Linked DNA regions of Homo sapiens: all the other regions are linked to region 3. The links come from fine-mapping of genetic effects on gene expression. A gene starts in region 3. Each other region holds a variant in brackets. All regions are shown on one strand. Distances are from middle to middle.

What was found. PIP is the estimated chance that this variant, and not a neighbour inherited with it, causes the effect.
Region 1: its variant is the best candidate, but not a certain one, in a credible set for the expression of UBE3D in whole blood (INTERVAL, PIP 0.84).
Region 2: its variant is the best candidate, but not a certain one, in a credible set for the expression of UBE3D in esophagus mucosa (GTEx, PIP 0.67).

Annotation. Positions count from the first base shown.
Region 1 is chr6:82,885,626-82,889,871 of GRCh38, reverse strand. It overlaps a transcript of UBE3D not described here. Among named protein-coding and RNA genes, the nearest start is that of UBE3D, 180 kb to the left of the region's middle. The variant A/G (reference allele first, on the strand shown) is at 2,056.
Region 2 is chr6:82,961,421-82,965,666 of GRCh38, reverse strand. All of the region lies in intron 8 of UBE3D (ubiquitin protein ligase E3D), which reads left to right. Among named protein-coding and RNA genes, the nearest start is that of UBE3D, 100 kb to the left of the region's middle. The variant A/G (reference allele first, on the strand shown) is at 2,055.
Region 3 is chr6:83,064,174-83,068,419 of GRCh38, reverse strand. UBE3D (ubiquitin protein ligase E3D) reads left to right here and starts at 2,579. Exons shown (of 10, transcript NM_198920.3): 1 at 2,579-2,778. The coding sequence starts at 2,702. DOP1A (DOP1 leucine zipper like protein A) reads right to left here and starts at 749. Exons shown (of 39, transcript NM_015018.4): 1 at 641-749. RefSeq lists a silencer at 251-520 and enhancers at 691-840, 871-940.

The sequences.
Region 1 (4,246 bases), 180 kb after region 3:
TGGCAAACCTATATAGGTTTGTTCATTCAGTGAGGACTTTTAGAACATCTACTACATTTCAAGCATAGTTACAGGTACTGCAGATAGAGATAATAAGACAAAGTCCTTGCCCGCATCGAGCTTACATTCTCATGGAGGCAGCAGACAAAAATAGAAGTACTATGTTTTATCATAAAATTACTATATATAATTTCTGCAAAGCACAATAAGACAAAGATGGGTTAAGAAAGATTAGGTGCTATTTCAGACAGGGATGGCTGAAATGAGCTTAAAGTGTATGTATACTGTATAGTACCATATATGGTTAAAATAATTCAATTCCATCAAGAGCTGCATTGTTAAAGGCCAACAGATCACATGCAAACTGCAGCCTTGCATCATTTTGCCAAAAGTAGCTTGACTAAACAAGGATCCACCGATATTAGCAAAGCGTGTTTGATTCCATAGATACCAGAAAAAAGAATCCGATTAGACCCAGACATGCTGATGTAACTGGCCTTGTGCAGGCCTTTTGGTAATTAAGTCTGCTCAGTAGCCACTGTTGTAAAAAGTGCTGACAGTGTTAAATAGTTTTCCTTTTGCATGATAAAGCCAGCCTAGTTGCTGTTCCTGTACATTTGTTTTTGCGCCTAATGTATAACAAATATTAATTGAGATCCACATTTCGTTGTTATTCAGGAATGTAGGAATGATTGGTACATCTTAGTCTATAGTTAGAGAAGAATCACCATTAGTGTTACCCATCAGAGGAGTGTGTCCCACTAGATGCTTATTTAAGAGTTCTACACATTCTTAAATCTTAAATACACAAGACCACTCAATATGATTTAATGTAACCATTTCTCTTGGTTTACATTTTAAGATGCTTTTACATTTTAAGATAGGTTTTACCTTTTATGATACATTGTACATTGTAAGATATATTTGAGATTTCATCTACTGAATCAGAGCTCATCATCAAAACTTAATCTGGGAGAAAAAGTAAGAGGGAGTTAATGGAAATCAGTCATAAGAGGTAAATCCTCCAGTTTTAAGAAGAATGACAAACATAATTGTTCAAAACAACATTTTTAAAAACATCTAAACTGTACTACCATTCTTTTAAAAATATGTCCCTATTTCCATTCTGGAATAAACTAAATCAATTTGTTCTCAATACCATTACATATAAATTATGAAACCCATTTTCAAGGCCACCCTTATTCTAGGATCCTTTGGTTACAAGGTACAATAAGCAGAGGGCAGGATTTGTGTCCTAGTCGTGTCTTTTAGTAGCCTTCCTGGGACCTTTGGCAGCCTTTCTGGTCAGAATGACAACTGCTGGCCAGATGACTACATTTTCTTTATTCACCTTTCTCCCCTATTATACAAAGCCTGATTACTTTCTTTCTATAAATATTTCAATATTTTTATTTGATCCCTTTTTAACATTTCATAGATTAAAACTATTTTCTATTTTATTACTTATTTTAGAAAAAAGGTGAAAATGATTTTTATTGTCATAATTTGTATGCACTCTATTTGTGTTTTGGTTGCAAATTTCAATAAATCTGCTTAAAAAAAAAAAACCTAAATCATGAACACCACAAGTGGTTAACTTAATTTCAAGCAGTAGCAGCAGTAGATTGCCTATATGGAGGTTCTGGCTGAACTCTTCCTAAACTCAAGGAAAACAGGGCTTGTCACCCTCTGCCCAGTACCCTTCCCAGCCTAAAAAGGACATGGCAGGCTTTCTGCAGATTGAAACTGGGAAAGAAATTGTAAATAGAAAGCGCCTTATAAGTGCCCACAAAAAAAAAGGTGGAATCTTCTCTCTTTTTTCACTGGAAACCAGAGAAAGGAACCAGTCTTTGGTGAAAAGGATCTCTCAGACCTGTACCTCCCCTTACATTTCCCACACCCTCTTCCCCTCTTCCTAGGTAATAGCATTTCTAGGAAGAAGAGCCAGAAATGCCAGCTTTGATCACTCCTGTGCTCCCTTTCCTGAGCCCACACTCTGGGGTTGATCACTGTGTGACCCCTTCACTTGAAACTTTCTCTTCATAGGATGGTGAT[A/G]TAAGTAACAAAATTAGTCATCATTAGTTTTAAGTTCCATAGTAGTACATATTGGACTCAGAAAGTATACCATCCAATATTCTTTTCTTTTCTTTCTTTTTTTTTGGGGGGATGGAGTATCTCTCTGTTGCCCAGGATGGAGTGCAGTGGCGCCATCTTCGCTCACCGCAACCTCCATCTCCTGGGTTCAAGTGATTCTCTTGCCTCAGCCTCCCGAGTAGCTGGGATTGTAGGCGTGCACCACCACGCCCGGCTAATTTTTGTATTTTTAGTAGCAATGGGATTTCACCATGTTGGCCAGACTGGTCTCGAGCGCCTGACCTCAAGTGATCTGCCTGCCTCGGCCTCCCAAAGTGCTGGGATTATAGGTGTGAGCCACCGCGCCCAGCCCACTATTCTTTCTGAAAAAAAAAAAAAAAAAAAAAAACTGTTACTGTCTCCTCCAAATACAGGGTTTGTTTGTTTTTTCTCTCTCTCCCTTTTTTTTTTTTTTTTTGAGACAGTCTTGCTCTGTGGCCGTCTGGAGTGCAGTAGCAGTAGCACAATCTCAGCTCACTGTAGTCTCTGCCTCCTGGGTTTAAGTGATTCTCCTGCCTCAGCCTCCCAAGTAGACTACAGGCACCTGCCACCACACCCAGCTTTTATTTTTTATTTTTTATTTTTTTTGGTATTTTTAGTAGAGACAGGGTTTCACCATGTTGGCCAGGCTGGTCTTGAACTTCTGGCCTCAAGTGGTCCACCCGCCTTAGCCTCCCAAAGTGCTGAGATACAGGCATGAGCCACTGCACTAGGCCCAAATACCAGTATTTTGAATAATAAACTCAATATAGGGCACTATAAATTCTCTGAATTGTTCATTTGATTATACATACTCTGTTTAGTGCCAATGTTAAAAAAATTCTTGAAATAAGGTTCATAATGTAACAAAAGAATTGAAATAAAATTCCACATTTCAATTCAATACCATCTGAAAAGTGATGATGTCAAGAAGAAACGAAATAGTGGCCAAGCATAGACACTTTGTCTAGCACAGGCAAGAGACATTTATTGTTGATATCATGAGAAAATTAAGTTGAAACTTTTTTTAATTTCTAATGAAATCACCAGTAAGTTAGAAATGTGTGTGTTAAAAATCACTAGAGGAAACAAAGAGAACTTGATAAAGAAAACACATTTCCTACGTATCTTTCCAATCCCGTGACAATTGCTCCTGGCAATTTTAGAAGAGCAAGTTTCAATGCTTGTGTTTACTTTTTTCCCTTTATTCCATCAAGCCAAGGATGTTCTCTACATCAGGGGTCTCCAACCCCCGGGCTATGGACCAGTACCAGCCTGTGTCCTATTAGGAACTGGGCTACACAGCAGGAGGTGAGTGGAGGGTGAGGAAGCATTACTGCCTGAGCTTTGCCTCCTGTCAGATCAGGTGGCATTAGATTCCCATAGGAGGTGAACCTTGTTCTGAATTGCATATGAGAGGGATCTAGGTTGCGTGCTCCTTATAAGAACCTAACCAATGGCTGGTGATCTGAAGTGGAACAGTTTCATCCCCCTTCCACCACAGGTCCATGGAAAAATTGTCTTCCACAAAACCAGTCCCTGGTGCCAAAAAGGTTGAGGACCGCTGCCTTACGTAAGCAAAGGCTACCACCTGTGGTTTTGCCACAGTGGTTGTATTCCTTACACAGACATAAAGTGTTCCGGAAATGAGTACTGTCATTAGAGATTGCTTTGTATGAAAGTAAAATTAAGAATGGAGGTGAGAAAAAACACACAAGAGAAACTGGCAAAGCAGTGAGTGATGATATCAAACTGCTGGTGTGGACCCCAGCAGTTGTGGAGTACAAAGAGGGCCCTCCCAATGGACAGAGAAGGCATCCTTGTCTGGATGAGGCAAGATTTTATGTGGGCCTTAAGTGATTATTAAGATTTGGAAAGATGGGAAGAATAAGACACTCTGGAAGAATGAAACTTTGAAATAGTAAGAACATTTGGCTGGATTGGAGGAATTGAGATTGGACTGTGAATAAGATAGGAAAGAGTTCTTGTCAGATTGTGGAAAGCTTTGAATGCCATCATGAACCTGCAGAACAATCCCCTTCCTCCTGACTTCTCAGTGCTCAGGCACAACAAGAACAGAAAATATATATTTTTTGTACCCTTGAGGGCTTTTTGAGCTCTAAAATGTAGATGC
Region 2 (4,246 bases), 100 kb after region 3:
TCACTTCTAATTATGAAGTTTCTGACAGGCTTGTTTGTAGGGTGGATTCTCCTCTTCTTCTTCTTTTTTTTTTTTTTTTTTTTGAGATGGAGTTTCGCTCTTGTTGTCCAGGCTGGAGGACAATGGCGGTATCTCGGCTCACCGCAACCTCTGCCTCCCAAGTTCTAGCGATTCTCCTGCCTCAGTCTCCCGAGTAGCTGGGATTACAGGCATGCGCCACCACACCTGGCTAATTTTTTGTATTTAGTAGAGATGGGGTTTCTCCATGTTGGTCAGGCTGGTCTTGAACTCCCGACCTCAGGTGATCCACTGGCCTCGGCCTCCCAAAGTGCTGGGATTACAGGTGTGAGCCACTGTTCTCTTCTTTAATGAAAGTGTTCCCAGTCTAATTTCTGTGTTCTTAGTGACTGCTGTCTTGCAATGATACAAGCATTTATAAAAGACAACATTTCTTATTTTTTGGCATGAAGTAATACATTTAATTTTGAGACTGCCTTATTGGTATCTTATTTAAATGAGAACCATTTTCCCAATGCTTTCTGATGTGTGGGAGATTTACCTTGACAAACTTACAGTCATATGGGCAAAGTTTGAAAGGCATAGCATTCAGGAATTGTGTACTTAAATTCTCTCAAGATCCCTTTAATTCAAAGAGAATTAAAGACCAATTTTGGCATTTGTAATTTGAAAGGGTCAAATTTTTCTTCTGTCATTTTCAAAGAAAAATTTTCTTATGGATACTGTTCATTACTTAATGAACTTTATTTGGACAAACAGTAGTTTGTGCATTTTTTCAGGGTCTATTTTTATTTAATTAATGCTTTTGAAATATTCTAAGTATAATGCAGTCAATATGGCTCATCAGAACAGACATTCCAATATATTTAGATGTTTCAAAATGTTGTATTCCTAAGAATGGCTTATAAGAATTTTAAAATTTTGGTTATGTATTAAATAGGTGAATGTTTATAAAAATTCTATCACTAAGTTGTTGCAATTTGCTTGTTTTGCTAGTTTGTGAGCTTAAATTGATGGACATATCATTGGCGTAGCTTTGAAAGTGAGCATCTAAAATTTACAGGTATAAGCAACATAATATTTCAATATCTTTAATAGGCTCTTTGCTTTCTTAGGTTCTTCTAGGGTTGAAGAGTTCAAATTATCTACTAAAATATGAGAAACGAGGTTTAAGTTAAATATTTTCATCTTGAGCTCTCTCATACATACCATTTTTTCTTCTCTACACAATAATATTTTGGATTCCTTTTAAATATTTTAATTTTGGTAGAGTTGTTATATCATTTCTATTGTCATTTTAACCTGTGTTACATTAAACGACCTCCATGTTTCCTAGAAGACTATATCACCTTTCTATTTACTCAGGTTCTTTTCTTGATATTGATTGGTTTGATTCATTCTCAATTTCACCATTTATGTTAGAAGTGATAGAAAGTGACTTTTTTCCCTTTCTCAATGCCTCTTTGAAAATAGATAGGCCGTAGTTGCTTCTCTAGGGAATTTTGACAAGGCAAAAGTTTAGAAATAAGGATGGTGTGTCCTCTACTTGTATTTTGGTCTGTTAGACTAAGGTCATCTGGCTGACAGTTCTGGTCTCCTAGGAAAGCTTTTCCTCTCTCAGTACTTTAAAAATCATAGAAGTAAGTTTCAATTGACGTTTAGTTCATTGTTCCTTTTGAAGTATCTTTCTTATTGACTTATAGTGGATGATTACTGATTTAGGTCCAATAGTCTGTGATGTCTTTATAGGAAATACCAGAAATGTTCCAGATTCTGCCCTATGGTTCTTAAAATGCTTGATCAACAGACATTTGTATTGATATTTATGATGGTTCATACTGAATGTCAACTCAGTTGGGTTGAAGGATGAAAAATGTTGATCCTGGGTGTGTCTGTGAGGGTGTGTCTGTGAAGGAGATTAACATTTGAGTCAGAAGGCTGGGAAAGGCAGACCCACCCTTAATCTGGGTGGTCATCATCTAATCAACTGCCAGCCCAGCCAGGATATAAAGCAGGCAGAAAAACATGAAAAGGCT[A/G]AATTGACTTAGCCTCCCAGCCTACCTGCTTCTCCCATGCTAGATGCTTCCTGTTCTCGAACATTGAACTCCAAGTTCTTCGGCTTTGGGACTGGGGCTGGTTTCCTTGCTCCTCAGCTTGCAAACAGCCTATTGTGGGACCTTATGATTGTGTGAGTTAACACTCCTTAATAAACTTCCCTATATATCTATCTGTCTTATTAGTTCTGTTTCTCTAGAGAACCAAGACTAATATAATATGTGAGTCATGGGCAGAGTTGCAAATGACACCTCTGGCTTTATCAACATATGTCCTAAATTCCACATAATGAGTTTGGTGATTGTTTTAGGATATACTGTATGAATTCAGTATGCCAAGCCATTTCTTCCTCTTTCCATTTTGTTCTCTTTTATTTCTTTCTCCAAAAAAAAAAAAAAAAAAAGATGAAAACTTTACCTGAAGTTTTAAGGGAAAGTTACCTGTAGTTCTTACTCTCCTAAACAACTAATTTCATTTTTATTTATTACTTTCTTTGTTCATATGTATGAATGCTTCCTGTGATTAAAGTAATATTTTATGTGATTGAAATTACAGAGAAAGTTTATAAATCATAACATTAGAAATAAGTCCTGAGACTCATGAAAAACGTACTGTGGGAATAGAAAGAGCAGGATGAACATTAGAAATGTGAGCAATATTAGACCTAGCTAGTTTGTCTAATTTCAAAAATAAGATTGCTCAAATTATTTTAAGATGAAGGGTTTTGAGATATCTAGAATTTACCCTATCATTTGCCTTTGGGGTTTTTAATCTCTTTGGGTGGAATTAAATAATGCCTAATATACTTTTGCCTTGTTCATGGAATATTAAAAAGAATGGGATTTAGATGGTAAAGATCATGCTTGAGATTTTCCTATCATTTATTGGCCCTGTGATCAAGATAACACTCTTTTCCTTTATGCGCTTCAATGGGAATAAAAATTGTTAAATCACAGAATATTTTAAGGATTAATTTTAAAATGCCAATGTTGGATTTACATACCATGCAAATGTCTGTAATTACATAGAGACATGGGTAACTAAAATGATAACTAATTGTATCTTTTTTGTGACTGTGGTTATCATTACTGTAACAATGTCCTTTTGTATAAATTTTGATAGTTTGATACATTGGACAGGTTGTATACCTGACTCCAAGGTCCTGTGAGGAAATTAGGCTCCAGAGTGCTTGTCCATGATCACTCACTGATGAGTGACAAGGCGGTGCCAATGTATTTTTATTTCTATTTGAGTGTCCATTTTTGATAGGTCATACCATAGCCATTTAGCAGCATGTTGAAACTTTTAAGTAGCATTTAAAATTTCCTTTGTCTGAACCAGAAATCACATCAACAGCATAACATTACTTGTTTTTGATTATAAAAATAACACTTGAAAAATAAAAGTATAAAGAAGAAAATGTAAAAACCAGATTATTATTTTCCTGTAGTGGAAACAACTGTGAATGTATTGCCCCCTAATCTTTTTTTCTCATCACATGGTTATTTTCACTTACTCTAACATGAATATTTTTCATTGTCTATCTTACTACCTTTCCTAGTCAAGTTTTAAAGTAATACAGACACACACACACACACACACGTATAAAAAATAAATTAGCATCTTTTTTGTTTTTTTTTTTGTTTTATTGTTGCCCAGGCTGGAGAGCAATGGCATGATCTCGTCTCACCACACCCTCTGCCTCCTGGATTCCAGTAATTCTCCTGCCTCAGCCTCCCGAGTAGCTGGGATTACAGGCATGCATCACCATGCCTGGCTAATTTTTTGTATTTTAGTAGAGACAGGGTTTCTCCATATTGATCAGGCTGGTCTCGAACTCCCGACCTCAGGTGATCCTCCCACCAAATAACTTCTTAAAAAAAGATCAAAATACTCAACTATATTTTGCAAGCCAAAGAGTTATCTTGCAGAAGAAGTAGGCATTAGCAGATTCAGTTATTAAATTCCTACTTATGGTTTGCTTGGAGAGGATAATATATACAGTGTCCTCAGCAGTCAGTGTGGTGTGGTGCGAATAGCACAGACTTTGCATTCGGGCTGACCTGACTGAATCCTGGTCCTACTTCTTGCTAACTGCATGATGTTGGACAATCACTTAACTTCTCTGCCTTTGGTTTCCTATTTTTAAAATGGGATGAATGATGCCTACCAT
Region 3 (4,246 bases):
GGGTACAGGAATGGAGGAGGCCCGAACAAGTGACTATTGTTATGTTGCAACTTTAAAAGGCTTAGGAATCAAAGGTGATAATTGTTAACAACACCCGTTTGACTCTTCTGACTTCCTCTTAATAAACTTCGGTACTCCTTTCTAAGCCCCACGGAGAACATGAACCATCGCGGGCCTACGTGTCTCCTCAATGCTAAAAGAACCCACCAGCCGAGAAGGCACAACGCCTCGATTCCTTCAACAAAGAGGGTACTCCGCACGCCTCCATCGCACAGGTGCGACCTCTGCCCCAGCCTTGCGCACCGCTCCGCCCCAGCAGGGGAGGCTCGGGACCTGTCCCCGGCTCCCCGGCCCCGCCTCCGGCCTCCCTCACCTGGGGCCGCCCTCGCGCCTCTGCCCGGCCCAGGCCCCGGCCCCAGCCCTGGCCCTCCAGTCCCCGCGCAGCTCCCGACTCCCCGTAAACCAGAGGGCGGCCGACCAGCTTCGCAGCTCCTGGCGGGGCCGGAGCGGCAACACCCCCGACGCCACAGCAGTCAGACTCGCAAGGCGTCCCCGCGGCTCAGGACCTAGCCGGGCCGAGAAGGATGCTCGGAGCCGGCTACCAGCCTAGCGGCCGCACTGGGGGCAGGGACGCTTTTACCTGCTGCTGGCTCGGCCGCTTCTCGCCGGCGCAGCTCTCCTGGCAACCACGGCAGCTACACCGAGACCGGGAGCCGAAGGGCCTAGTGACAGCTCCCAGAGTGCACCGTGCTCGCGCCCACGCCGGCGTCGACGTCTGAGGCCTTCGATCCCCGCCCCCGATCGGCTTCCTGCCTCCCGGCGCTAGCTGTTGCCACAGCGCCCTCAAGTGGACTGTCGCGGGAAGCGGCCATGGCTACCAATTTCAGGAGTGGCTAGAAAGGGGGTTAGCAGATGTTTTCATTTGAAGAGATAATAGGAACTGAAAACAGCTTTTAAATATTATTTGAATAGTTTCTCAATATTTCATATGAGTAACCTGCATCCCAGAGAGGTTAGGAGACTTGTGAAGTTAGGAGACAAGTAGTTGGTGTCAGATTTGGAACTATTTTGAGTCTAGAGCTCTATCAATCATATCTAGTTACTCCAAGGTAAATTGCACCGTTTTGCCAACACCATACCGTAAAAAAATGAAAGTTTTTACAAATACGTAACTAAATATATAAAAATCTTTTAAGCTAACAAAACAATTATAAAGAGTAAGTTGTGCTACGGAAGTTGTATATTTCAATATAATGTGTCAATATTTAAGCATTCAATAGCCTCGGGTACTAAAGGTGGAAGATATGAAGAGTTGAAATCATCATCCTTCAAATAGATGAATTATTTGAGACCAAATAATAGTAAACTTTATTTTTTTAAGTGAGTTGTTGCTTCCATCTATAACTTCAAATTATTGTGATAGATATAATAATTTGTGCATCAACATAATAAACTTTAATCACCCCAAATACTGATTTTAGAAAAATTGTCAAGCTATTATCTTAAAATATATGACAGGATTTATTTATTTAGAATTTATTTATGGTTTAGGCTGGGCATGGTGGCTCACACCTGTAATCTCAGCACTTTGGGAGGCCAAGGTGGGCGGATCTACCAAAAACAGAAAAATTAGCCGGGCATGGTGGCGCGTGCGCCTGTAATCCCAGCTACTCGGGAGGCTGAAGCAGGAGAATCGCTTGAACCCAGGAGGCAGAGGTTGCAGTGAGCCGAGATCGCGCCACTGCACTCCAGCCTTGGCGACAGAGCGAGACTCCGAAAAAAAATAAATAAATAAAAGCAGCTCCTTGTTTTTAAGAAGCCCTATTGTAATTCTACCCGGTCTTATATTTTAATAGTTCTTCATTATAAGTATTTACATTATACCAGGTTCTTTACTGTGTCAAACTTTTCAAAACTATCTTCTGGTAGTAAACTTCTCCAACTTCTCTTAGTTTTTACTTTTGTGAAAGTGAATAGTGGAGCTGTACATACGTAATCATTCTCATCTTCCTTTTTTACCCCCTAAAAAATGGTTAGTCCTGATAGACTTCAGCCACACTCTTCTGCATTAGGTAACAAAGAACTTCCTTATATTTTTGCACCTGTTTCAATTTTGGAGCTATCCTGTCTAAGTTGAGAAGCAATGGCAAGTCAATTCTTGAAAATTTTGTCGCTTTAGATAGAGGCTAACAAACGACCCTTGTTCATAAAGAGACCAAGATAAAGTGGGTTTGGGGCCGGGAATTCTGTTCTTGCATCTCCTGGGGACAAAGCCCACCTGTAACACTTGCCTCCATCATCTCCCTCCCTTCGAGCTAGCCAAAGGTGTGAACCCTGGGTCTGATTTTTATGGTCATTTCCAGGGATGCTAACGCGCCAAGTCACGCTCATAAGAAGCAGAGTGGGGCGATAGCTAGCCTCTCGCCGCCCACCTTTCTCAGCACTCTGGGCCAAAGCCTGGTTTTGAAAATGCGCGCCCCGCCCCGGCCTCCGGGGTCACGCGCCTTCTCGGTGGTGCACTCTCCGGCCGGCAGGTGGCGCTGTGAGCTGGTAGGCGGCGCCAGCCCTGCGATCTGGCACAGGCGCCTGCGCCGCAGCGGGGCTGCCGCTGGTTGGTCCGCACGTGGAACCTCTCCTGGTCCTGTTGACCCGGGCCCCTCGGAACCTCCAGCTTGGTCCGGTCTGGGACTGGAAGCCTGCCATGGCGGCTTCTGCGGCGGAGACGCGCGTGTTTCTGGAGGTGCGGGGACAGCTGCAGAGCGCGCTTCTGATCCTGGGGTAAGAACTGGGATTCTAGGCGCAGTGCCCAGCTCGCTTTACTGCTGCCCGGGGGTCGGGGGCTGGTGAGTCTCTCTCTGTACGAGGGATTTTGAGTTTCTTCTTTCCAGTTGCGTAGAGCCTCTCGATCACTCAAAGTGAAGCTTTCCCCTGTAGTCGGCTCCGCCACTCCCACCCCTACTGACAGTGTGGGTATCTTTGGGGAGCTTTTTAGAAATTCAGGGTCTCAGCTCCACACCAGACTTATGGAATCAAAACTTATATTTTAACAAGATTTCCAGGAATCAAATGCACATTAAAATTTGAGGAACAGTGATGTAAAACACTGTTGGCAGTGCCCGGCGTTTCCAACAAAACAATGCAAAAAATGATTTGTCTGTCTCTCTTCGGGATCCTCCTTACTGGATCAGTTCCTATGTGAGCTTCTTGTTTTGTAAATAACCTCGGGTCTTTTCGTCCAAAACTGCTCTTTGCAGAGAAACCACACAATCATTCAATAAACGTGAGTTTAGTGAACCACTAAGACAGGTTGTAGACTTCTTACTGGAGCTCGTTCATTTATTCATATTCTTCCTTCCAGTGAGAACGTCAAACTTGTTATTCGCTACACAAATAACTTTTAGGAAAAATGTTCTCTATTTTGTTTGACAGCAGTTTTAATGATTTGTGGTCCCCTTGTCTATTCCTTTGTGATCGCTGTTTCAAAGAGAGTAAGTTAGAAGTTAAAATCCTGAGAATGGTATTACACGGTGCCACAGGTAGATTGATGCTTAATTTTTTCCTCTTCCCTAAATCTGCCAGATATCTGGTGTGGCAATTTGGAATATGGCGTGAGAACTGAGTTCAAATGCTAGCTTCCTCACGAAATTAGAATAATTTAATCTGAATTTCTTCAATCTTGAAATGGGAATAATAGTACTCTGAATGTATTTCTTTTTCTCTTTCAAAATTTATGAATTTGGACAAATATCTCCAATTCTGGTGCACCTTGTAGAGTAATTAGGAACCCAAACCCTACCAAAATAAAACAAAAACCACACACACACAACAAACCCTCCCTTCCTCTCATGCAGGGGCCTTTCACAGTTCCCTTGGACTACTCTCCTTTGTTTAGGCAAGGTACCCGGGTGGCTCATGCCTGTAATCCCAGCACATTGGGAGGCTGAGGCGGGCGGATCACGAGGTCAAGAGATCAAGACCATCCTGGCCAACATGGTGAAACCCTGTCTCTACTAAAAATACAAAAATTAGCTGGGTGTGGTGGCGCGCACCTTTAGTCAGTCCCAGCTACTCAGGAGGCTGAGGCAGGAGAATGGAGTGAACCCGGGAGGCGGAGGTTGCAGTGAGCTGAGATCGCGCCACTGCAGTTCAGCCTGGCAACAGAAAGAGACTCCGTCTCAAAAAATAAAAAATAAAAAGAAAAAAAAAGAAACCTAACTTTGCTGGACTTAGTTTTGCCATTTCTTGA